Regions from separate parts of the Homo sapiens genome. Here regions 1 and 3 are each reported to be linked to region 2. The links are microRNA targets in miRTarBase. Many come from high-throughput screens and were not tested one by one. Region 2 holds a microRNA gene; each other region holds the end of a gene's coding sequence.

Region 1 (7,802 bases), not on the chromosome of region 2:
GGCTGGAAGCAGTGGATTGAGGGGGACAAGCTGTACCTGGTAAGTACTGGGTTCTGCTCAGCTCACTTCCATTGTGCTTACACACGCTACTGTGGTCACCTAGCCAGGTGTTTTGACAAGAAAAATGGCCCTGCACTCCTACCCCGAGCTCCAGCCAAATGCATGTGGTCATATAGTCAGAAAGCCATTCCCATCTGGCTCAGGGGACTCCAGGAAGAAATCTATATGGCTGTTTCTGTGAACAGCTGCAATTCAAAAGAAAGTTCAAAATGCTGAGTTAGGAAGCAGAGATCCAAGGAGAAATACAGGGAACCTGCTAAAGACCAGCTGGGGAGAAATGTGAGCCACAGAATTTAGATGCCCTGGAGGAGGGTGGGACAGGGCCTTCTCATAATGATGGGAGCCTGGGAGAGAGAGTGGGGTGGGGAGGAGACAGGACCCACTCTGCCTGGGAACTGCCACAGGTATTGACCTCTCTCCATGAGGTATGTCCTTCTGACCCCAAAATATTTTAAGGTAATTTGGTACTAGAACAGAGCAGTAGGAACAATAACTGATATCCTTAAATATCTTATACCTGTTGAGACAGCTTAATTTTTTATTCTTCAATCTTCAAGGCACTTCATGGGTTCAGCATTCAAATGGTGAAAAATCTCTCACTCCTTCATCCTTTTTCGCTCATTTGTAAATGAATGGCTCATTCAGTGAATGGCTCTTCATTCATTAATTCACTCACCTTTGGAATGAGGCAGGTACCTGGCTCCAATGTCAGTATTCAGGTTGCCACAGTGCCCTTCACAGCCAGCCTTGCTTCACCTGAGATCTTTATTTTGAAGGCAATGTCAGCTAATGATATATGGGAGGCATTTATCGTGTTTTGCATTGATGGCTTTCCCTACCTGCACTGGTTTGGATGGTGGATTTTTCTAATTGTAATACAATCCCCAGTGCTCTCTGTGGCTTAGACAATGGATTCACAGTCAACTGCAATGATTGTGGTGGTCCTTCCCACACTCATGTTTTTCCCTCCTCCTTCGAGGATCAGTGAGGGTCAAATAAGGCCTGGGCTCCCTCTATCTGGATGAAAAGCGGGACCTTGTCGGCTGCACAGGCAAGCCTGGGAAAGCCCTTCTGCACCTCACACCCTGCGGGTACCTGCGCCACCACCAGCCAATGTTCTAATCACCAGAGGCCAGAAAGCCCACAGGGTGGAGGGGCAGCTCACTGGCCAGCATCTTTTCAGGCCCCTACCTTCCAAACACTTCTCTACACTAGGTCCTTTCCTTCCTCATGGCTTCGCTGCCTTTTATAAATTAGGTCATGTTACTTTAATCATGGGAGTAGGAGAAATCCTGCCCAAGAGGGTCATTTCTTTGCATTTTTCATTTTTATAGTTGTTCAAGCTCAATTCAAGTGTCAAAATCAAATTACTGCTACCTGCAGGGCATGCCCGCTGATTGGGTCTGTGAGATGCACTTTGCCCAGAATACCTAAGTGTCCTCTTTATTCCAACCTCCCACCCCCAGATACCAAGGGGGCTGAGGGCTGGGCAGAAGAAAGGCCTGGCTTGTTAGACCCTCACCCACTTTCTGACGTTGCAGGAGCTGACCTGTGGTGACCAGGTGTGCCGTCAAGTGTTCAAAAAGAAATGATGGCGACGTGGGAGGCCTGCCAAGCACAAGCTCCCCACTGCCCACACTGAGTGGTCTACTGGCTTTGAGAAACAGCTGTGGGGACCTTCCCACTCTTGACAGAGCCCCATTAAGGCATCTGGGTGGGTTTTAAACAGAATGCCTATGTAGCAGTGATAGACATATTCCCCTCCTTTGAAACCTAGCATTAAATGGAAAAACAAAAATTACTCCCATATTTTGAAACCCTTTATATGGATCTCCGTTTATTTCTAGAGCTGTCAGTTTTACCCACAGACAGAAGAGATGACTGTCTGTGTGGTTTTTGCATGTTTATTAATTTGTTTCAATTTATTTTATTTTGTTTCTTTTTTCTTAGCTTGTTTGTTGGTTGTGGGGGACATGGGGGGTGGGGAGGAGGGCATTTTACCTAGAAACATTCTGTGGCCCGCACAGCATCTGCTACTGATTCTTGAACATCCTCGTCTGAGACTCATTCCTTTGGATGCACATTATTTCTCAAAAGTTCTATTTTAGGATACATATGCCTCCCAGTCTGCAACTTGCCCTGGGCAGCCTGGGCAGAGCTATTCCAACAGATCTGCAGTGCCAGCTGCTCTTGGCCCAAGCCAGCCCACTGTCCATCAGCCCTGTGCTGTGGAGGGGGTCACTAACTACAGGTCTACTCAGACTCAGTGTAACTTCTCAACTACTGCCACATGCCAGGTGCTGCAAACTCTGGGGCCAGGAGGCCTGAATTCAAGTCCTGCCCCTTCACTTCTTAGCTGGTTGACCATGGGCCTGTCATTTGGCCTCTCTGTCCTCATTTTCCTCTATCATAATATGAAGAAGAGACAAAACTATCATCTCCTCCACTGGGTCATTGTGAGGATTAAGCAATTTAAAACATGCAAAGTGTTTGGAACGGGCCCTGGTATGTGGTAAGGATTCAGTCCCTGTTAGCCCTGGTCCTTCTGCTGAGTTACCCCCTCCACAGTCTCAGGGGTCCTGGTGAGCAGATGCTAACTAGAGATAGGTCAATACTTCCACAACCTTCTGGTGCCTTCAGAACATTAGGTTCATTATTCTGAGCAGAATTGTATTTTGCTGCTGGATACGCAGATGGAATAGTGCACCTGGAAGGACAGAGTGGTTAATGCAGACGGATTTGTGATGGATCATTCACGGGGTCCTAAATTCATGGGGTCCCACAGGTAAAAGGCATGTCCTTCATCCTTCTGTCCCACCATTAGGCAAGCATTCTCTTTGTAAAGCAGGTTTATCCCCAGAGGGGTAGCACATGGTGTTAGCACACTTTGGTATGATTTGAATGATCAGATCTTTTCATTGATCCTGAACATCCTAAATGGGATTAGGGGGATGGATAGAAAGGCTGCAATCCAGCCATGTGGCCCAGGGCCAGCCTTGGCTCAAGCCCTTTGATCAAGCCATCATGCTATGGGCCTCCTGGCAAGCTGTGCTCCCAAACAACCAAGCCATGTTCCTGCAGCAAGAAAGCCAGAAAAGTGCCTGGCTGGAGCCTCATGTTAGCCGGGAGAACGGAGGAGGCGGAGTTCTCTCACATGCATGGCCTTTTTGGTCAAGTCAGTGAGAGGCGCTGGGGAGGAAGGGGAGCCTCCTGAGGAAGTGCAGGCCTCCTCTCCTGGGGCAGACAGGGAACCAAGTAGAGGGACCAGTGAAGTGGGCCCTTTGTCCCCACCTTCCTAGAGCTTCCCCAAGAGCCCATCCCCACTCCTATCACTCTCGCCAGGCTTGCCCTTGCTCGCCACAGGCTCAAATGACCTCTCATCTGTCCCTCAAGAAAACCCTATTGAATGAGGTTGTGTCTGAAGCCCACTGGGGACTCACTGTGAAGTATTCTGCGCAGGTAAGGGGTTAGTATTTATTTTTGATCCTGGGTTAAGATTCCATGAAAAGGTTTATGGTCAAATAAATTTGGAGAACTATATCCCCTTCCTAGAAATTCACAATGAGAATTAGCATTTTTAAAGCTCTGACAAGTCCTCCAGCAAAGACACCCAGCCTGAAACCATGGAATCCCCTTCACCCAGAAGAGTTCCACATCCACAGTGTGCTTTGGAAGCAATGAACTCATTCCCAACATGTGCATGCCACTTTTTCAATTATACATGGCAACAATATACTTTAAAACTCTCATTTTCCAAGTGGAATAGTCTCAGTATATTTTTTCCACAAATGAAAAGTAACTGAATGAATTAGTTTACCTATAGTATGAAAGACTCATGGTGGCTGTATTCATTCTACTGATAATTCTTTTTCAAAGAAGATGCATCTGAACTCAAAGTAGTAAAATTTTAGGTCCCATTGAAAAGCCTGGGCATCTATTTTGGGCCAGGGCCTTCTTTTCATTCCAGCACTCACTGTGGATGGGATAAGTCAAGTTGCCTCTCTCATATTTCTGTTCCCTCAGCCTGTTTCAGAACCAAACCATGGCAGGAATGCTTCACTCCAGCACCAACAAGCCTAGTCGGGAATACAGTAGAAAAGATTAAATTTTAAGACCCATCTAGGGCTTATACTGAGGACAGGGCAGGCCAGTGGGAAGCACTCTTGGAACCTCAGAACCCTACCTCCAGGGAGTATCATGAGAGACATTGGGGTTAGCCATTAACCAGTGGGGCCTGTTCTTGAAAGTTAAAGAAAACCTGTCCTTGAAAGTTAAAAAAAAAATTCAGGCTCACAAATGGGCAGCATTGCAGTGTGGTTCAAGCTTGGACTTTGGCATCAGCCCTTGGTTTGAACATGGACCTTGTCACTCTCCAGCTGTGTGACTATGCAGCAGTTACTTCCCCTCTCTGAGCCTCCCCTTTCTCATCTGTAAAGTAAGGATTATAGAACCTGCTGCATGGGAAGTAGTAAGGAATGAATAAGACCCTGTGGTACAGTGCCTGAAACAACAGTCAATTCTCTCCCTATATACAGATTCTCCTCCCCAATCCCATATATTTATCCATTGTAATACATATATAATGAGGTGATTATTTCCTTCATGAAAACTCTTTGCTTTCTAAGAGTTTTAATACTGAGATCACTTACTGTAGTCATTTCCAAATGTGAAGATCAAACAGAAGGACTTATTAAAAACACAGATTACTGCCACCTCCCCTGCTCCTCTAATCTGGTTCTGAGGTCAGGGACAGGGCCCTGGAATATGTATTATTTCAAGCTCCCCAGTCGAGTCCTCTGCAAGTGCTTAGCAAATACACTGGTAAACCCAGCCTCGTTCATCCAAAGCATGATCATTTTAAACATATTTTCCCACATATGCACACCCACATTCTCAAGCAAAAGCCCAAGTCCACCTCCATAGGTGAGTAAAGTCAGTGGTCAAAGGTCATGTGAACCACTCACACATCTTTCTGCTGATGCAGTATTAGGGCCCCTGACTGTGTCCAACGAGTCCTATAAGAGAAGCGACGTCACCCTCTCTAGAGCAGCTTCATAATGGGGGAGATGTTTAGGCCCTGGATAATGGCAGTGGGTGATGGGAACAGGGTATGGGTGATGGGAACAGGTGGAGAAGGAACCAGCACAAGCAAAGGCGGGAAGCAGAAAAAGGCAAGGAGGGTTGGGGAGAGGTGGGGTGGGGGTTCTTGCCCATGGTGGAAGGCAGGAGGACCAGGATCTGGAGGGCTGTTCTCTCAGGCTTGGGTAGGTCATGAACACTTGTTTGGTCTCAGTCAGTGCACCAGGAGAGCCAGAGCTTCTGAGGAGAGTGATGTATCTGGGATTCTGCAGCTCAGAAAATGATACCCCAAAGTATAGCACTTTGGTGTGCTGAGTACTTTGAACTAAAGGACATTGGAAGACCTCAGAAGCAACCTCAGAACCATGGTCTCTTTGACTTCCTGCTTCCTATCTCTCACCCCTCATTTCTCCCTCAAAGCAAGTCATAGAAACATAATTCCTTGTACCCTAGGTGGGTCATAAAAACTGGAACCCCTCTCCCCCAAAGTAAGCCATGAACCCTGGAAATACTACTCTGACCTCCCCATCCCCTTCTGTCTAGGAGGTGGCCAAAAAGAAATTCTCTGACCTACCCTTATCTGATATTAGATCCTAAGGCCCTCATTGCAGAGGGGTCCTGCATCATACCCAGAAGGAAGAAATGCTACAACAGAGAGGCCAAGAAGAATCTGAACAGACAGGCCTTGCTGGGTTTTCCCATTCAGTCTATTACTACTGGATTATACCCCTTTTGTCCAATACAAAAAGAGTACATGGCTGTCCACTCTTCATCAAACCTAAGCATAAAAACAGTTTCCCCTGGGTCTTGGGGTCTTCATTTTTGAAGTCTCCCATATCACATAAAAGCTTGATTAAATAAATGTGTTATGCTTTTCTCTTGTTAACCTATCTTTTGTTCTAGGAGTGTGGTGGGGAGGAAAGATGTCACTCTTTTTCATCCCTAGGAGGACATGAACCAGGAATGCACTCCAGTCATTGTTGACAGGACAGATGAAGGTGGGGAGAGGAACCCAGGATCAAGTATTTCAGGGGAGAAGCAGTGAGGGACCCATATTAGGGATAGGGAGTGGTCACAGGAAGGAAGGGAAGAACAAGAGAGGTGCTTTAAGGAGCTGCCACACTAGGCAGGGCTGCATAAAGCTCACAGAGGAGGTGAGGGCATAAAGATGGTTGTGGGTGTGGGGACGAGGGAGGACAAATACACACAACACAGCTCAGCAGTGGCAGAGGGAGAGGGGGGTGCCAAAGGGAAGATCACGTGTTGAGTTAAGCCTGTTGTACATGAGGTGACAGAGCAATGACTGCAAAGGCTGGCACGCTCTGTCTCCCTCAACCACTGCCACCCTCCAATGACTAATTGTTACCCCCTTCAAGAGTCCAGCAGCTGCTGCTGGCTGAGAAGGGAGGGAGGTTTTGGCTGGGGCCAGAGCTGATGAAACAGTGACTGCCAGTTTTGAGGCTGGGAGATGCTGATGCCACAAGGGATAAGGGGAGCTACAGAAGGGACAGGAGGGGAGAATGAGGAAGAAGAGAAAGGAGGAAGGAGGAGAGGAGAGAATGTTGCAGGGAGAGGAAGGGAAACAGAGGGGAGAGGTGAAGAGGAAGGGATGAGGGGGTAGAGGAGGAGAGAAGATGGGAAAGGAGGGGAAAGGGTAGGAGGAAAGGGAAGTGAAGAGGAAGGCAGAGGGAAGAGGAAGGGAGAGGAGAGAAAGAGAGAGGAGAAAAGAGCAGAGGAGGGGGAAAGAATGGGAGAGAGGAAAGCAGGGAAGAGGATAAGGCAAAGGAAGAAGAAAGAAGAGGAGAGGGAAGAGGAGGGAGAAAGACTGGAACAAGTAAGAAGAGGGGAGAGAGATAGGAGAAGCTTGGAAAGAACACCTGCTCCTCACCAGCAAGAGATGAAAAGAGGAACAGGTGGGAGCTATGTCTTGCCTACCCAGGGTTCACAGACCACAGTCAGAGCAATAGCAGCTGAGACAGACCCCAGGGGCTTTCTGTAGCCTCTGTTGTTTTTTTCTCCAATGCAAAGGAAGATTCATTTTAGAACTAGGCAATTAAAGCAGAGCTAGTGCACCCACAGGAGGCTCATCCTGGGCCCTCAACTGGTCTTCAAGGCAAGGAATAGATCCAGGTTGTAGGCTTAATCCTTTGTTAAGCACCTCCTCTGTCCCTATTTGAGCTGTTTCCAGGACTAGGATGTAGGTGCCCATTCAGACCAGGTGAAATACTCAAAGTCCCATATTTGGTAAGTAGCAGAGGCAGAATTTGAACACAGGGGTTCTCTCTCCAGAGCCCTAAGGCCCTCCACACAGGAGGCGGCCCCTGACAGGGACAGGGCTATCCTTCCCCCAGCAATCTCCAGAGCCCTGGCATCTTCAGAGACCTCTAATCCCATTTCTTCCCAATCATTTGAAACCAGGAGTGTTAGATAGTTTTTGCATTGCTATAAGTACCTGGGACTGGGTAATTTATAAAGAAAAGAGGTTTAATTGACTCACAGTTGTGCAGGCTGTACGAGTATGGCTCTGGCATCTACCTCCAATAAGGGCCTCAGGAAGGTTATAATCATTGCACAAGGCAAAGGGGGAGCCAGTGATGTCACATGGCAAGAAAGAGAGCAAGAAACAGTCAGGTGGAGGTTCTGGGCTCTTTTAAACAACCAGA
Region 2 (7,802 bases):
GTCTCCAACTTGCGAGCTCAAGCAATCCACCTGTCCTGGCCTCCCAAAGTGCTGGAATTAACAGGCGTGAGCCACCTCACCTGGCCAATTGCCCACTCTTAATGAGTTCCCTCCCATTTCCAGTGCCACCTGACACCCCCCACCCCCTGACACACACACACACACTCTTGTTTTCTGACTTCCTGCCTCTGCAAGACAAGAAGCCTGTTCTTTTTCTGGAAGATCACACCAACTCCTGTTTAGCCCTCAGACATAGTTGCCAGGGAGCTAAGCAACTGAGCAGGAATTATGGTCAGGGACACAGCACAAATACTCCAGCCCATTTTTCTGACAACCAGACTAATATCCCTTACATTACCGAAAGTTCTGGGTTCCTCACTACAGAGATTAGCTGTCCAAAATTAAAAAAAACAAAACAAAACAGAATTATCCGCCCAGAGACCTAGTTACTGGGTGTGGAAAGTGTGTGTGGGGAGGGGTGGGAGGTGGTTCTCCCTTGCTTCAGTTGGCTTCTGCCTTGTTTTAAGGAATCTTCTCCTTTAGCAAAAGGAGGAGACTTTGGAATGGATTGATTACACAGACTGTGGTATCTGACCCATTGAATTTTAGAAAAAATTCTGATTTAAAGTTTCAGAAATTGCACAGAAAATTTCAGATTTCTGGCTTCTCTGGAAATGATAGATTTGCAGTTCAGGGCTCCCATACCCTCATGGTAATCATAGGCTGCCCCCTTTAGCACGGTCCCAAGAGGTGAAAACGACTTGTACACCCCAGCTGCTTGGGATTATTGAGGACGAAAGTAGAGAGAAGGGGAGAAATATTGGGGAGTGAATTTTGAGCCAAGGCTTAAAATTAAAAGTGGGGGAGGTAGAGCCCAGCAGTAGTAGGTGGAGGAGAAGGGCTCCTGGCCGGGGGTGAGGATTCCTCCTGAGAACCATAGTGTCCAAGCTAGAGGGAAACATGGGGTCCACTAGTTCTCGACAAGTGGAACAGGTCACTTCCCATCATGCCGTCCAGGAGCAAGAGAGACTCTTAGGGGGTTGTGCCCCTCCCCACCCCCAATACGCAGATTCTGTGTACCATTTACATCCAGAACATTGGTTAAAACCTGAATTCTGGCCCTGCGTGGTGGCTCATGCCTGTAATCCCAGCACTTTGGGAGGCGGAGGCGGGCAGATCACCTGAGGTTGGGAATTTGAGGCCAGCCAGACCAACAGAGAGAAACTCTGTCTCTACTAAAAATACAAAATTAGCCAACCATGGTGGCGCATGCCTGTAATCCCAGCTACTTGGAAGGCTGAAGCAGGAGAATTGCTTGAACCTGGGAGGCAAAGGTTGCGGTAAGCCGAGATCACGCTATTGCACTCCAACCTGGGCAACGAGAGCGAAACTGTCTCAAAAAAAAAAAAAAAAAAAAGTAGCTGGGCGTGGTGGCATGCACCTGTAATCCTAGCTACTTGGTAGGCTGAGGCAGGAGAATTGCTTGAACCCAGGAGGCGGAGGTTGCAGTGAGCCGAAATTGTGCCACTGCACTCCAGCCTGGGTGACAGAGTGAGACTCCATCTCAAAAAACCAACTTGAATTCTGGGGCCAACTCCAGATGTACTGAGTCAGAATCACTGGGACCCAGGAATCTGCATTTTGGCAAATTGCCCCCATCATTCCCAAGCAGGGATTTGAAAAGCCACTGCCTTAGGGGTTGAATGAAAGCCTCGGGTGAGGGTGTGTTATCTGAAAAACCCCTAGTGTGACTCTCTTGCAACCCACCAGGGAGGGGAGCAAGCTCCCCAGAACAATCACTGCTTAAACATTTTCAATTTATAGCAAAGGAAAATTAGGTCTGAAGGATAGAAATAGGAATAGCATTTATTTATTTACTTACTTATTTGAGACGGAGTCTCGCTCTGTCACCCAGGCTGGAGTGCAGTGGTACAGTCTCCGCTCTCTGCGACCTCCGCCTCCTGAGTTCGAGCGATCCGCCTGCCTCAGCCTCCAGAGTAGCTGGGATTACAGGTGTGCATCACCACTCCCAGCTAATTTTTGCATTTTCAGTAGAGACAGGGTTTCGCCATGTTGGCCAGGCTGGTCTTGAACTCCTGATCTCAAGTGATTCGCCCACCTCAGCCTCCCAAAGTGTTGGGATTACAGGTGTGAGCCACTGCACCCGGCCAGAAGAGCATTTATTGAGTAATAACTGTATACCAGACATTGTAATAAGCAAGAGCTTTAATGCGGCCTAATTTAGGGCCAGGTGCGATTGCTCATGCCTATAATCCCAGCACTTTGGGAGGCTAAGGCATGAGGATCAATTGAGCCCAGGAGTTCAGAACCAGCCTGGGAAACATAGTGAGACCCCCTCTCTACAAATAATTTAAAAGTTAGCTGGGTGTGGTGGCATGCACCTGTGGTCCCAGCTACTCGGGAGGCTCAGGTGGGAGGATCACTTGAGCCCAGGAGTTTTGAGGCTGCAGTAAGCTGTGATTGTGCCACTGTATTCCAGCCTGGGAGACAGAGCTAGACCCTGTCTCCAAAAAAAAAGAAAAAAAAACAAACTACAAAAATTGGCTGGGGGTGGTGGCACACACCTGTAGTCCTAACTACTCAGGAGGCTGAGACAGGAGAATTGCTTGAACCTGGGAGGCGGACGTTGCAGTGAGCCGAGATCATGCTACTGCACTTCAGCCTGGGCAACAGAGCAAGACTCCATCTCAGAAGAAAAAAACAAATAAAATTATATATATATAACACATATATATTTTATATATATTAGGCAATAAATATATATAGCTTAAACCTTACAACTTCATGTTTAATCTCACAACTTCATGAGGTAGGTACCATTATTATTATTATTATTTGAGACGGAGTGTCACTCAGCCACCCAGGCTGGAGTTCAGTGGCACGATCACGGCTCACTGCACCTCCGTCTCCTGGGTTCAAGTGATTCTAGTGCCTCAGCCTCCCAAGCAGCTGGAATTACTGGCAAGCACCACCATGGCTGGCTAATTTTTTGTGTTATTAGTAGAGACGGAGTCTGACCATATTGGCCAGGCTGGATTATTATTAAGACAGGGTCTACCTCTGTCACCAGGTGCAGGATCATGGCTCACTGCAGCCTCGACCTCTTCGGCTCAAGTGACCCTCCCGCTTCAGCCTCCTGAGTAGCTTAGCTGAGACTACAGGTGCCACCTATCACACTGGCTTTTTTTTTTTTAAGACATGGGGTCTCACTATGTTGCCCAGGCTGGTCTCGAATTTCTGGGCTCAAGCAGTCCTCCAGCCTCTGCCCCGCCCCGCAAAATGGTGTGATTACAGGCATGAGCCATGTCTCCCAGCCCTAAATAATGATTTTTTTTTTTTGAGACAGGGTCTCACTCTGTCATCCAGGCTGGAGTACAGTGGTGCAATCACAGCTCACTGCAGCCTCAACCTCCCAGCCTCAAGCAATCCTCCCACCTCAACTTCCCAAGTAGCTGGGACTACAGGTGTGCACAACTAATTTTCTTTCTTTTCTTTCCTTTCTTCTTTCCTTTCTTTCTTTTTTGTAGAGATGGGAGTCGCATTGTATTGCCCAGGCTGGTCTCGAACTCCTGGGCTCAAGAGATCCTCCCACCTATGCCTCCCAAAGTGCTGGGATTACAGGCGTGAGCCACTGTGCCCTGCCCTAAATGATTTCTAAGATGCTAAACAACCCTGACGTACGGTCAATCCTCTGGTTCTTTCCCCTCTGACCACATTCTGACCTCTTCTCAGAATATCCCAACCATTTCTGTTTTCCACCTCTGATTCCACCTTGGATTCCTAGAGCTCTTAGGAGAGAGAACCCCCTTAGCAAGGAACCTCTCAACAGCCCCAGGCCCAGAGTGAACCCGGGAGGCGGAGGTTGCAGTGAGCCGAGATAGTGCCACTGCACTCCAGCCTGGGCGACAGAGCGAGACTGTCTCAGAAGAAAAAAAATAAAAGTATATGTATGTATAACATATATATAATATAGATTATATATATATTAGACAATAAATATATATAGCCTAAAGCTCAAGGTGTACCCCCCACATCCCGTTCATTCTGCCTAAGTGCACAGAGCTGGGGTCCCCTCCCAACACCACCCCTTCACAAACATGTAGTAGCCTAACAGAATACTTAAGATCAAAATAACATTCTGCTGTTTTTGGATTTTTACTTACATGATCCTATTTAATCCTCACAGTGCACCTGCCGAGGAGAAGAGATTATTATCCCGTTTTACAGAAAGCTCAGAAACAGAATATGGCCCCTTAACCACCAGTTGCTGATAATGCCAGGTTGGACCTCTGGCTTCCCAGAGCACTACACCCAGCAGTCCACTGCAGTCCACCCACTGACATCCCCTGGAACCCAGAAGCAAGTGCGTTTTAATCTGCAAGACCTCGGGGCCCTGGGGAGGTGGGATGGCTAGCATGTGGGTGTTGATTAACTGGGAAACCGGCACGAGTGTCTTAGAAGTACTTCACAAAGGAGCCGGGTGGGGAGTGAAGGAGGGGGTGGGGCGTGAGACGTTAAGAAAAATTGGATTAACGTGTCGTGGGCTGGGTTGCATTAACCATTCCCAACACTATCTCTGGGGAAGTCTCACACCTGATATTCAATAGACATCCCCTGTAGTGGGTGATGTTGGCAGAGGCAGGCGACATATACAATAATATTTTTAGAGATCCTTGTTCACACTTCATCCGCACCAGAGGACTTCAGCCCCTGTGGTATTCACTCCTCTTTAGGGCTAATTTGAGAAACTGTCTCAGATTGGAATCCAGCACCTAGAGATAGGCTGAGGTGAGCAGGCTGATCTGTTCAGACGCTTCGCGGACCAGGTTAACTTTACAAGCTCATTGGCTTCCAGAGGGTTGGGGACCCTTCTTATCCTCCTAGCTCAGAGGGAAAGATTCAAGAGTTTACTCTTCGCCCAATGCCCACTTCAGCTAGGGGTTCCTGGAAGAACGGGGCTGTGGAGTATCTCAGAAAACTTTCCTCCCTCTACTGTCTTCAGGCCCCAGGAGACAAACCTCCTTCCAAGCCTCCTGGTCCCAGTGGCTTCCCTCTCACCGAAATCGAAAGAACCCGAGTCCCAGCCCGACCCCTTCTCTCGCCGAGCCCTGGCTGGGATACCTTGGCCGGGAGGACAGGACGGCCTCAGGCTGGCCGCCAGACGCACTCCGCAGGACGCGCGCGCTCGAGCCTCGGTGGACTCAGCCGCCGGCCCCGGGAGGCCGCCTCCCTGCGCAGCACCTCCTGCCACCCGCGCGGGCACGTGGGATCTTGACTCGCCGCCCCCGCCTCCTTCTGCTCCGCGTCCCCAGCCCGCGGCTCGGGGCGCGGCGTGGCGCGGCGCGTGGGCGTGCTGCGGGGCGACCATGGCTGTAGACTGTTACCTCCAGTTCCCACAGTAACAATCGAAAGCCACGGTTGCCCTGGAGACGCGGGGGCGGGGCGCGCGGACGGCGCCGGCGCGGGGCGGGCTGACGTCAGGGCCGCGGGGGGGCGGGCGGGGCGGCGGGGGCTGAGGAGCGCGCGTGGGCCACCGCCCCTCGCAGCCCCTAGGGACCCGGACGGGGCGGCCCGATGGCGGCGCCTGCGTTGATCAGCACCGCGGACAGCGGCGGCGCAGGCAGCGGGCCGGGGGCGGGGCCCTGAGGGACGGGGACTGGGGGTCCCCGGGCGCGGCGGCGGCGGCCGGGGCCGCGGTCCTGGGGCGGGGCCAGGCGTCGGTGGCCGTGACTGGAGACTGTTACTGAGGGCGGCCCGGGCAGTAAGCAGTCTAGAGCCAAGGTGCCGGCGCGCTGTCCGGGCGGGGTGCCCCGGTCGCCCCGGCTGCCCCGGCTGGGGGCTCTGCTGCTCCGCCTCCCCTGCGTCTCCCGCCCTGCCCCGCCCGGCGCTCGCGACCAGGCACGCGGCCCCTGACGTCAGAGGGCCGTGACGTCAAAGATGTCCCAGAGGGGGCACTTCCGGCGGGGGCGTGGGGGCGGGGCGGGACCTGGGAGGCCCCGCCCCCCCGGTCCTGAGAGGACAGCTCCGCTCGCAGAGGCGGGAAGCCGTGGGCGCCGCGGGACCCGCTGGACGGGACCTGCCGGGAAGGGGCGCCCGACGCCATGCGGGGCGGGGGTCCCAGGAGGGCCGGGGAAGCGGGGGTGGGCGTCCGTCTCTCGCCTGCACCCCCGCTCAGCCGGCCCGGGCAGCGAGGCTGAGTCACCGCGCCGCAGGGAGGGAGAGGAGGGGGCGCGTCTCCTGGGGCGCCAGCACCTTCGCCTCACTTTCCTGGGAGAATGGCGCAGGAGCCCCAAGAAAGCCGGGGGGGGGTCTCCGAGGTCGGTCCTCCACTCGATGCTCCTCCGAAGTAGCTGCGTGTCCATCGGGCGCCGGCAGGTGCTGCGCGGGCTCGTGTCGTCTCTGGCCCCGGCTCCGCAGCCGCGAGGGGACCCCGGTGCCCCCCGTCCGCCCCCATCCCCACCCCGGAGGGGCCGCCCCACCCGCCGCCTGCCCGTCCCCTCCTCGTCCTCCCGTCCGTGTCCGCACATCTGTCCCTCCGCGGCTGGTCCGTCCCGCTTACCTGGCGGGCCGCGTCGCCACTGCCCGGTCGCCTCCCGCAGCCTGGCCGGCGCGGCGGCTTTTATAGGCGCGCGTAGTACTCGTGCGGCGGCTCATTCATGCGGCCGCGGCTCCTACACACTGACGCGCTGCCGACGTCAGCGGGGAATTTAGGAAATGGGAAAAGGGGCTATTTATAGTGGCGAGGCGGGGGGTGGGGACCGAGGCGACCGGGAGGGGAGGAGGGGGCGCGGAAGCGGCGGCGGGGTAGGGGGAGCCGCGCCCCTGCCCAGCCGACAAGGGGTTAACTTTCCGGAACCGCGGGCCTGGGGCCGGGGAGGCGGCGCGGAGGGGCGCGGCGGGCCCTTCGAGCTTATTCACGCTCTCCTTCCGGAGCCCCGCGGCTCCTGGGGGTCTTCACGTGGCAGCCCCTTCCCCCTCCTCAGTTCCTGGACCTGACGTTTCTGCCGTCACACCCCGCAAGGCCACTGCGGTGTCGCCACCCTCTCGTCCTGCAGGGTGGGCAGGAGAGGAAGCTGGACTCCCGTGGGGGCCTGGGGCGCAGCGAGGGCTGTGGCGTCGGGGGCCGGGAGAAGAAGAGTAGGGGAGCCCAAAGTAGCCCAGGAGTCTTTAGCGGAGGAACCTGGGCCTGGGAGGGAAGGCCCAGCGGGGATTCAGGTACCACCCAGGAGCTGGAGACCCGAGGGACGGCAGAGAAGTTGGGGAAGGTGGGCCAACCTCCCCAGAAATGATGAGCAACGGGATCCTCTATGAGGGAGCTGGGGGAACGCGCCAGAGGTAGGGGTGAGAGGAATGGGCAGCCTCAGCAAGGGAGAGAGGAAAGGCTGTCAGTGCCACGCTCCAGAGCCTGGCATCCAGGACCCACCTTCGGACCATTTGTGGCACGATGGACGCTCCCAGAGCTCACGTTAGGGTAATAGAGAGTGAAGGAGACCAGCAGCTTGGCCAAGAGGGGCCCCCAGGGGATGAGGAGGACGGTTTCCTGGAGAAGTTAATGTTCCCGGAGACCAGAATTGGCAGGGAGAGCCCATGACTTGTGGGGCAGTTCCCCTGGTTGGGAGCGGGGAAATGCATGGTCCTGGCCCAGCCTGGCTCCATCGAGATGGAGGAAGGGTCTAAATGAGAGGAGTGTGTTCAGACGAGGAGCTGGACCAGGATGGGGAGGGCTGTGCAAGGCATGGCCGGAAGAGCGGGGCAGGGAGAGAAAGGTCGAAGAGTGAAGT
Region 3 (7,802 bases), not on the chromosome of region 2:
GATGTTCTTTTATTTAAAGCACATGATCAGAAGAATTCGAGATCTCATACTTACACTGCTAGGGTTGTGGTGTGCAGTGATCTTCTTAATGCCTTGATGCCCCTGTAACTTTGTTCCAGAGAAAACAGAATTTACCAGACTGCTCAGAGCAAATGCTGAATTGACTTGGAGGGTGGATTTTTTACTTATTTCTTATACCTTTGGAGCAGCTTCATGAGCTCCAGCTACCTCTGTATTTAAAGATTACTGACTTGTATGATCTGACTCATTATTTCTGAGATTGAATACCTTCCTTTTATTTAGGCAGTGGAGTAATTTTACTGAAATTGTCACATAGAAAGTACATACGGTGGCTCATACCACTCATGAGTGCTGGGTGGTAATCCCAGCACTTTGGGAGGCTGATATGAAAGGATTGCTTGAGCCCAGGAGTGAGACCAGCCTGGGCAACATAGTGAGACCACGTTGCTCCAAAAAAGAAAAAAAACATTAGCTGGGCGTGGTGCTGCACACCTGCTGTCCCAACTACTCAGGAGGCTGAGGCAGAAGGATTGCTTGAGCCCAGGAGTTTGAGGCTGCAATGAGCTATGATCACGCCACTGCACTCCAGCCTAGGTGACAGAGTGAGACCCTGTCTCAAAAAAACAGGACATTTTGAACCAAAACAAAGTTATTTCCTCCTTTAATCCTGTTGGTCATTTGGAATTGGACCTCCTGATCACTTCACATAGTAGAGTATATTTAAATGAGGATGGTCAGATAGGAAAGGAAGGGAAATTTCAGTTGGGGTTTCTTGAAAATTATTGCTGATTTCTGATCTTTCTGCTTTTCCTAGGAAGGAATGTAATATTGGCTAGCTTGTGCCCTCAAGTGTTTGGAATGTATCTAGTAAAGCTTGCTGTGGCCATGGTGCTGGCTGGTGGGATTCAAAGGACTGATGCTACAGGAACACGGGTCAGAGGTTAGTACCTATTTAGAAATTTTGAGTAATATTGACACATGGATGGAAGCTAGAACTTTTTCTTTCCCAAATAAAAACTGCTCGTTGGGTTTTATTTTCCAATTGTAATCTTATAAAACTGACAGTTGTCTGAATATCTTATACTTAGTCTAGCATCTGTATATCAGAAGCTACTTTCTAGAGTTCCAGAAAGACTGAAAGAAGTTACATTTTTCTATGGCATATACTTTTGCTATAGCCTATAAGGATGCCACAAAATAAAATCTTTGTTTCTATTACTGTGTTTTTTGTTGGATCCCCGGTCTGTTTTCAAAAGGAAAAAGATTAGAAATAGTGTATTTTAATGTCTCCAGTCAGCGTCTCTCCATCTGTGGCTGTCACTGTGTTTCTCTTAGACTGCTGCTTTCAGTCATCTGCCTGCTGATTCTCCTTCTGCTGGTAGATAGCAAATGTGCCATCTGCCATGGGGTGCTGCTGCAGGTCACACCTTCAAGAAAAGATTACTCTTAAGTGTATAATTATGTCCAGATGGCAGAAAGCTCTTTTGCAGCTAACACACTTAACCAGAGTCTGGCATACGGGTTATTACGGCCCTGTACGTGGGCCATAATAACCAAAAATTAAACCAAAAGACTAAAAGGGCATTGTTATAAATCAGGCTGTTAGTAGGGACTCGAAAACCATATAGTACAGTATAGAATAGTAAGTATAAGGCGTCCTTATATGTTTTGATCACCTACTGTTTTGCAAGGCACTCTGCCAAATGTTGAGCTTAAATAGGGGTTTCCTATTAATGTATTTAGGAAACACTTGAGAATTGCTGAAGAAACTTGGTCAGTGAAATCATATGTACCATAGGATATGCACGTTATTTATGTTACATTTGCAAAATGAGTACTTATTTTAAGATACATATTTCACTAAGTTACTAAAATTTTCATAAATGAAAAGGTCTTCACTTAACTGTTAGAATCATAATTTGATATTTGTAAAGTACTTGTAAAATCCCTAATACTTCTAAGTGCTTAAATAAAAATAGAATAAAATACTTATATGACTTGTATGCAAGGATTTAATCATAGTAGTTTGATATTTAAAAATAGAGTAAATCAGAAACTTTATAAGCCAAAAATTTTTTGTTTGTTTTTGTAGACATGGAGTCTTGCCCAGGCTGGTCTCACATTTCCGGGCTCAAGTGACCCTCCTGCCTTGGCCTCCCAAATGCTGGGATTACAAGTGTGAGCCACCGCACCTGGCCCCAGATATTTTTTAAAATGTTAAACATAGGCCTGAACATCTGGAAATAGCACATAATTTATTAATAGAATTTAGATTCTATGTCACATTGAGTAATCAATTAAGGACTGTTTATGACAGTTAACTTTCTGAAGATTTTCTAGTTAAATCCTTTCTCAAACGACCCTATGTAAAAGTACACAGTAAAAACACTATGTAATATTTTGTTGGCATTCCAAATGGACCCTTTTATAGAAATTTAAAACTTCATGTATTTGCTTTTTCCTAGGAGAATCTCATCTTTTATTGGTTGGGGATCCTGGCACAGGGAAATCTCAGTTCCTCAAATATGCAGCAAAGATTACACCAAGATCTGTGCTGACCACAGGAATTGGATCTACTAGTGCAGGTATTGTATGTGACAATTTCAAGTAATTTAACATTACTTCAGAAGTTAACACAATGGTTTTTTCTAATGAAAAACTACCTATAATAGGATAAATTTCAAGCTAATTTTTGAGTTACCACTAAAAATGGAAGGAAATATGCAATGTTATTTTGGTAGCTCTAAGAAAATATCTTGCAAGCTCCACCTTCACTTTGCATCTTAGTTTTGAACAATCCTATTCAATTTTCTCATTCTCTAGTGATTACCTTCATACTTTTATGCAGGAAAAAGTCCGTATCATCTGGCATTTTATCAAGACTCAGCAACTGGAATGTTAAACTAAAGAGGGGGATATTTCACTTTACCAAGTAGATAGATGGTATAGAGCTTAAGGCATTTTCATGCTCATAAATCTGATAGGCAACAGTAGCTCCTACTGAAATTTCTTAGGTAGGGAATGTTTATTAATATTTGGAAAATATACTTCCATCATTGCAATGTGGAGCTTCATTCATAAGTTGTAATGATTCTTTAGCAAGTACACTTAAAAGCCTTTGCAGGTAGAATGTCAAGATTTGATTATAAATAAAGTGACCCAGGGAATTTAGAAAAAAATTATTTTAAAAAATATGTTTGATGCTATTTTGTATTTTTACAGTTTTGATTGGGTAATGTTTCTGTTCTTCTGAAAACAGACCCTTGGCTTCACACATTTTAAAAATGTTTGCTACTTGTTAAGGGAGTCAGATTAACTTCCATTGGGCTAATGAATGCTCAAATTTCTAATGAGAAACTAACACTTTAAAATTTATCATACAACAGAAAATGGCCAATTAATGGTCCTGTATAAGTGGAAAACTGTTAAGGAGGTCTCAGGTTTTGAAATATAACTCAACAGTATATTAACCATTGACAAGAATGGATTTTTGGAATTGAGAAGGGTAGACAAACTTCAGGATACTAGGCAAGAATATATAAAGAATATTTCCCATGCGTTTTAAATCCGTATGACCCAGTGTTCTAGAGTTCTGTATAAAATGATACCAACAACAAATAAAGATGCTTCCCAAGTAATTATGTGGAATGTTTCCTAAGTAATTATGTAGAGTGTCAAGAAATGAGTCCAAGCCATCTAAGTGGATGACTGGTAATTTCAGAGTATTTGGGCAGTTTGAAAGTGAATTGCTGCTGATTCACTGGATTAGTGAATTAGTATAAAAGTATATTAGCACATTTCCTCCTTTTTAATGCAAAGATCATAATCCAAATATGAGAGAACAAGTATAGGGAATATAAATTTTACGGTTATAGAATAGTTATTGCTACTTCTGGTCTACCCAAAGGGCCACGCTAGCCTTTCTTCAGATTGTGTACTGCAACCCATTAGAGTCATAAAAGTCAATTCAGTGGGTCAAAACCAGCACTTTCAAAGTAAAATACAATTAAAAAAAAACCAAAATACTGCATAGTAAAGGTGCACTAAGGATGTGTTTTCATGAAATTTTTTAACATAAATATAAACTTGTTATGGAGTCTTTTTTTTTTTTTTTTTTTGAGATAGAGTCTAGTGCTGTCGCCCAGGCTGGAGTGCAGTGATGCAATCTCAGCTCACTGCAACCTCTGCTTCCTGGGTTCAAGTGATTCTCCTGCCTCAGCCTCCTGAGTAACTGGGATTACAGATGTGCACCACCGCACCTGGCTAATTTTTGTATTTTTAGTAGAGACAGGGTTTCACCATGTTGGCCAGGCTGGTCTTGAACTCCTGACCTCAAATGATCCACCCGCCTCAGCCTCCCCAAGTGCTGGGATTACAGGCGTGAGCCACTGCGCCCGGCCCTAAGTTTTTTATACCATGGATTATGGTAAAAAGTTTTGATAACTGCTGCCATAGACATTCTTGGGAAAGCTAGAAACCCCAAATCCTAAAATTAGAGGGTATAGTTATATGGGAGCCTAAAGTTGTATAAGGTTATGAATGGGCAAATAAATGCATGCATACTTCTTCAGACCTCTGGAATGTTTTCTCAGCCCAAATAATACCCTTAATGCCTCCATCTTAGTGGCATAAGTCATTGGTTCATGTTTATATTCTTAGGACACAGCTATTTACTATGAGCAAAAGGGTGGAAAATAGTTCTTCAGATACAGTATTGGCAAATGACGCTAGACCGGGTGGAAAAAAAACTTATGTGCTACAGTTTCTTACGTTTCTAATGTTTGAAGTCTAAATCTATTTTCAGTCATTAAAAAAATTCTTAGAGTGATAAAATTTAAGATAACAAAAGGTAATGGTTCGCATGTCCCAAGCTTAAGTGAAAATTGGTTGTCCATTTACAACTTGATACAAAAACCTAACCCTTTGATGTCACTACAAATAGATTGTTATAATTAGTCAGAATAAAAACTCAGCAGTAAATGGCTTTATTTGGTGATTTGGCTGTATATGCTTTATTTCTAATAAGCACATATGTTGTTCCTATTATATTAACCACTGAGCTCTTTGTTGGAAAGTAATGCTTTTATTTTCATTTTAATATTTTAACATTTTTCTTTTAATTGCAATTAGACAAATGAGATTTTCTTTATATAGTTTTAACAGTCAGAAGTATTTTACTTTTAAAATCTATGAACTAGTTAATGGACAATATTTTAATAATCTGGTATATTAAATTCAAAGTTTAACATCTGGCAAAACTTTGCTTCACAAATTCACTTTTTTAGAATGATAGGAAATATATACAACTCAGAATCCATGTTTAGACAAATGCCCTTTTCCTTTCCTCAACATAAAAGCTTTAAAAAGTGCAGTATAAAAGTTTTAGATATGAAGGCACTGCATAACCTGCATCATATGGCTGTCTTGCTTAGCTGCAAGAATAATGAAAATATTCTACCTCAATTTTATGGAGCATAAGAAAATTTTTTGAGGAAGGACTTAACTCTCAAAGAAAAAGAAACCTTTTACCCCATTTAGTTAATGAATTCCTTTCCAAGATTGCTTTTCAAAGATTTGTTGGAAAAGCTATCTAGAGTATGTCAACCACAAATATGCCTGATCTCATTCTGCATGAGTGTCAGAGGAAATGGGGAAGAGTACTACAGGTGTGAAAATATATATATTTCCAAAATAGTAACGTATCTATTATAATAAAGCTAAATATACCTTTCTAAATCCATGGTTTTTATATAAATACTGCCAATAACATGATCTATTAAAAGAATTTTTAAAGGTCATGGTATTTTTAGAAATCAAATGAACCAATTTGAGCCATTGTAATCCCCTATTCTTAAACACAGGGAGTTTGTATTTTCTCCCGATATTGTATTTGGTCTTGAATTCACTGGACAATAATGATGTATGATTCAAGAAATGCTCTGATATTCTAAACTCTGTTATAAGAACAAAAACCATAGCCAGGGGACCTTATTAACAATTAGCCATATTTGTTCTTCTCTTACCAAACAAACCAAATGCTGTCCAACATCTCATGAACTATAATAGTAGCCATAAGAGGCTTCACGGTGGCTTGGAAAATTGGATCCTAAAGTTCTTGGTAGCATATAGTTGATTTCAAATCCTCTTTTTAAGGACATGCCAAAAAAGAATGGAAATCTGCCCCTTAAATTAAAATGATACCATATGTCTTCACAGGAAGAAACATTTTAGTTGAAGTAAACTTTGTTCTTTCAAAGGCCAGTAAAATAGTGGTCCAAAGACTGTCTGGGAGGCCAAGACATCTTTACAACCTGGTCTAATGATTCCTGTTTCTTTATAAGTGCTTTCATTACATATAAAGGAGAAGAAAATAATATATATGCTTTAATCAGATTAGTTTCAGAACAAATAAAATAACACATTAGAGAAAAAAATTACTTAAAAATAGTTGTATTTATATTCCACAATTTGTTCAAATACTGGTTTTCTTATAAACTTTCTACAGGATGTTTTTAAACAAATTCTTCACATTGTGTTTTGACTATGTACTTACGGAATTTCAGGGAAATAGTTCTGTGTATTTTTAATAGCTTAATTTGTACTAAAGGGATGGTAGGTGGTCACATGCAGTCCATGTGGGATTCTAACATGACATTTAGTGAGTTTTCTGATGTGGACCATCCCTTTGATGCTGAAGGTAATGCATCTGTTGAAAGAAGTGACTGTAGATTTGGATTACTGCTCTCTGCATCTTCCAGTTTTTCTGTGTTATCTTCCCAATTAATGTGGAATCTTGTGACCCTGGGATTAGATGCCAAAATATTCCTTTGAAGCTAGAGGAAAAAGGAAACATACAAATGGTAAACACTAAGAAAGTTAAATCACCATATACAAATAGAAGCTTAATAAAATGGTTCATGTTAGTACTCCTAAAGGGCTAAGTTCATATACAAAGGTATAATTCAAGTTAAGTACCTTAAATATAACTAATAAGATGTAACGACTAGGGCTGTAGCAAAGAAGTTATTTTAGATTAACAGAAACAAGATACGGAGAATCTGAGGGGATTCATCTGGCTTTTTAACTATTTAACTCCTATACTTCTGTTTTCTAAAAGAAAGAATCTCCTCATTTTTGAAAATGAATGCTTCAGAAGATGCTTTATTTAACAAGCTACTATGTTGTTTAGATTGGTATGTTTTCAAAGGAAAATGAAAAATTGTCAAATACAACTTATTATTAATGGTTTCCTACACCTTTTAAAGATGGCTCATTCTTAGAAACAGTCCTGTTTCTTTTGTGCTATATAAGGTGCTTCAGGGATAACAAATTGGATCAATGGAAGGTACAACAAGGGTGAAAAATAGTCCGGCCTTATTATCAGAAAGAACATGAGAACATTCTATTCTATTGTCATGTAATTTTTCTTGCATGGTTCAACTTCATTTACTCTGCACTCTCACAAAATCACCAGTTACCAAACTGTTATAGTTCCCAGTGAAAAATCAGAAAATACTAAGTATCTTTAAGAATGCTGAATCCTAGATTTCAGCTTCTCACTCAGAATTTAAGCTGTTTTCAGTACCAGAAATATTTAAGACTGTTAGTTTAACTTCTAAGAATAGCAGATAAAGCGTATAGGTGTTTTGAGATAACCGTATTCATAGGAAAAACAAACATAAAACTTTCATAATTTTGGGAAGAGTTACACACAAAAATATCATCATTGAATAATTAGTACAACAAAAATGCATTTGTTTGTCCTAAAGGTTGAAATGAAC

What was found. The annotated mature microRNA hsa-miR-212-3p reads UAACAGUCUCCAGUCACGGCC and lies in region 2 at 5,744-5,764, opposite strand. An mRNA with a match to its seed (bases 2 to 7 or 8) in the 3' UTR can be bound and repressed. Matches are read on the target gene's strand: a 7mer-m8 pairs with bases 2 to 8, a 7mer-A1 pairs with bases 2 to 7 and ends in A, and an 8mer does both.
Region 1: miRTarBase lists RBP2 as a target of hsa-miR-212-3p. The part of its 3' UTR that is shown has no 7-base or 8-base seed match.
Region 3: miRTarBase lists ASF1A as a target of hsa-miR-212-3p. Seed matches in the 3' UTR shown: 8mer at 5,179-5,186.

The regions. Positions count from the first base shown.
Region 1 is chr3:139,446,966-139,454,767 of GRCh38, reverse strand. It overlaps RBP2 (retinol binding protein 2), which reads left to right. Exons shown (of 4, transcript NM_004164.3): 3 at 1-39; 4 at 1,602-1,884. The coding sequence ends at 1,652. The region is part of intron 3 of COPB2-DT (COPB2 divergent transcript); the gene reads right to left. Among named protein-coding and RNA genes, the nearest start is that of RBP2, 26 kb to the left of the region's middle.
Region 2 is chr17:2,044,547-2,052,348 of GRCh38, forward strand. It overlaps MIR212 (microRNA 212), which reads right to left and starts at 5,834; the gene lies at 5,725-5,834. MIR132 (microRNA 132) reads right to left here and starts at 5,462; the gene lies at 5,362-5,462. LOC124903896 (a long non-coding RNA gene) reads right to left here and starts at 5,403. Exons shown (of 2, transcript XR_007065576.1): 1 at 4,615-5,403; 2 at 4,161-4,212. RefSeq lists silencers at 5,158-5,957, 5,968-6,117 and an enhancer at 6,663-7,558.
Region 3 is chr6:118,906,454-118,914,255 of GRCh38, reverse strand. ASF1A (anti-silencing function 1A histone chaperone) reads right to left here. Exons shown (of 4, transcript NM_014034.3): 4 at 5,085-6,854. The coding sequence ends at 6,642. MCM9 (minichromosome maintenance 9 homologous recombination repair factor) reads left to right here. Exons shown (of 14, transcript NM_017696.3): 7 at 836-961; 8 at 2,487-2,606. Among named protein-coding and RNA genes, the nearest start is that of ASF1A, 16 kb to the right of the region's middle.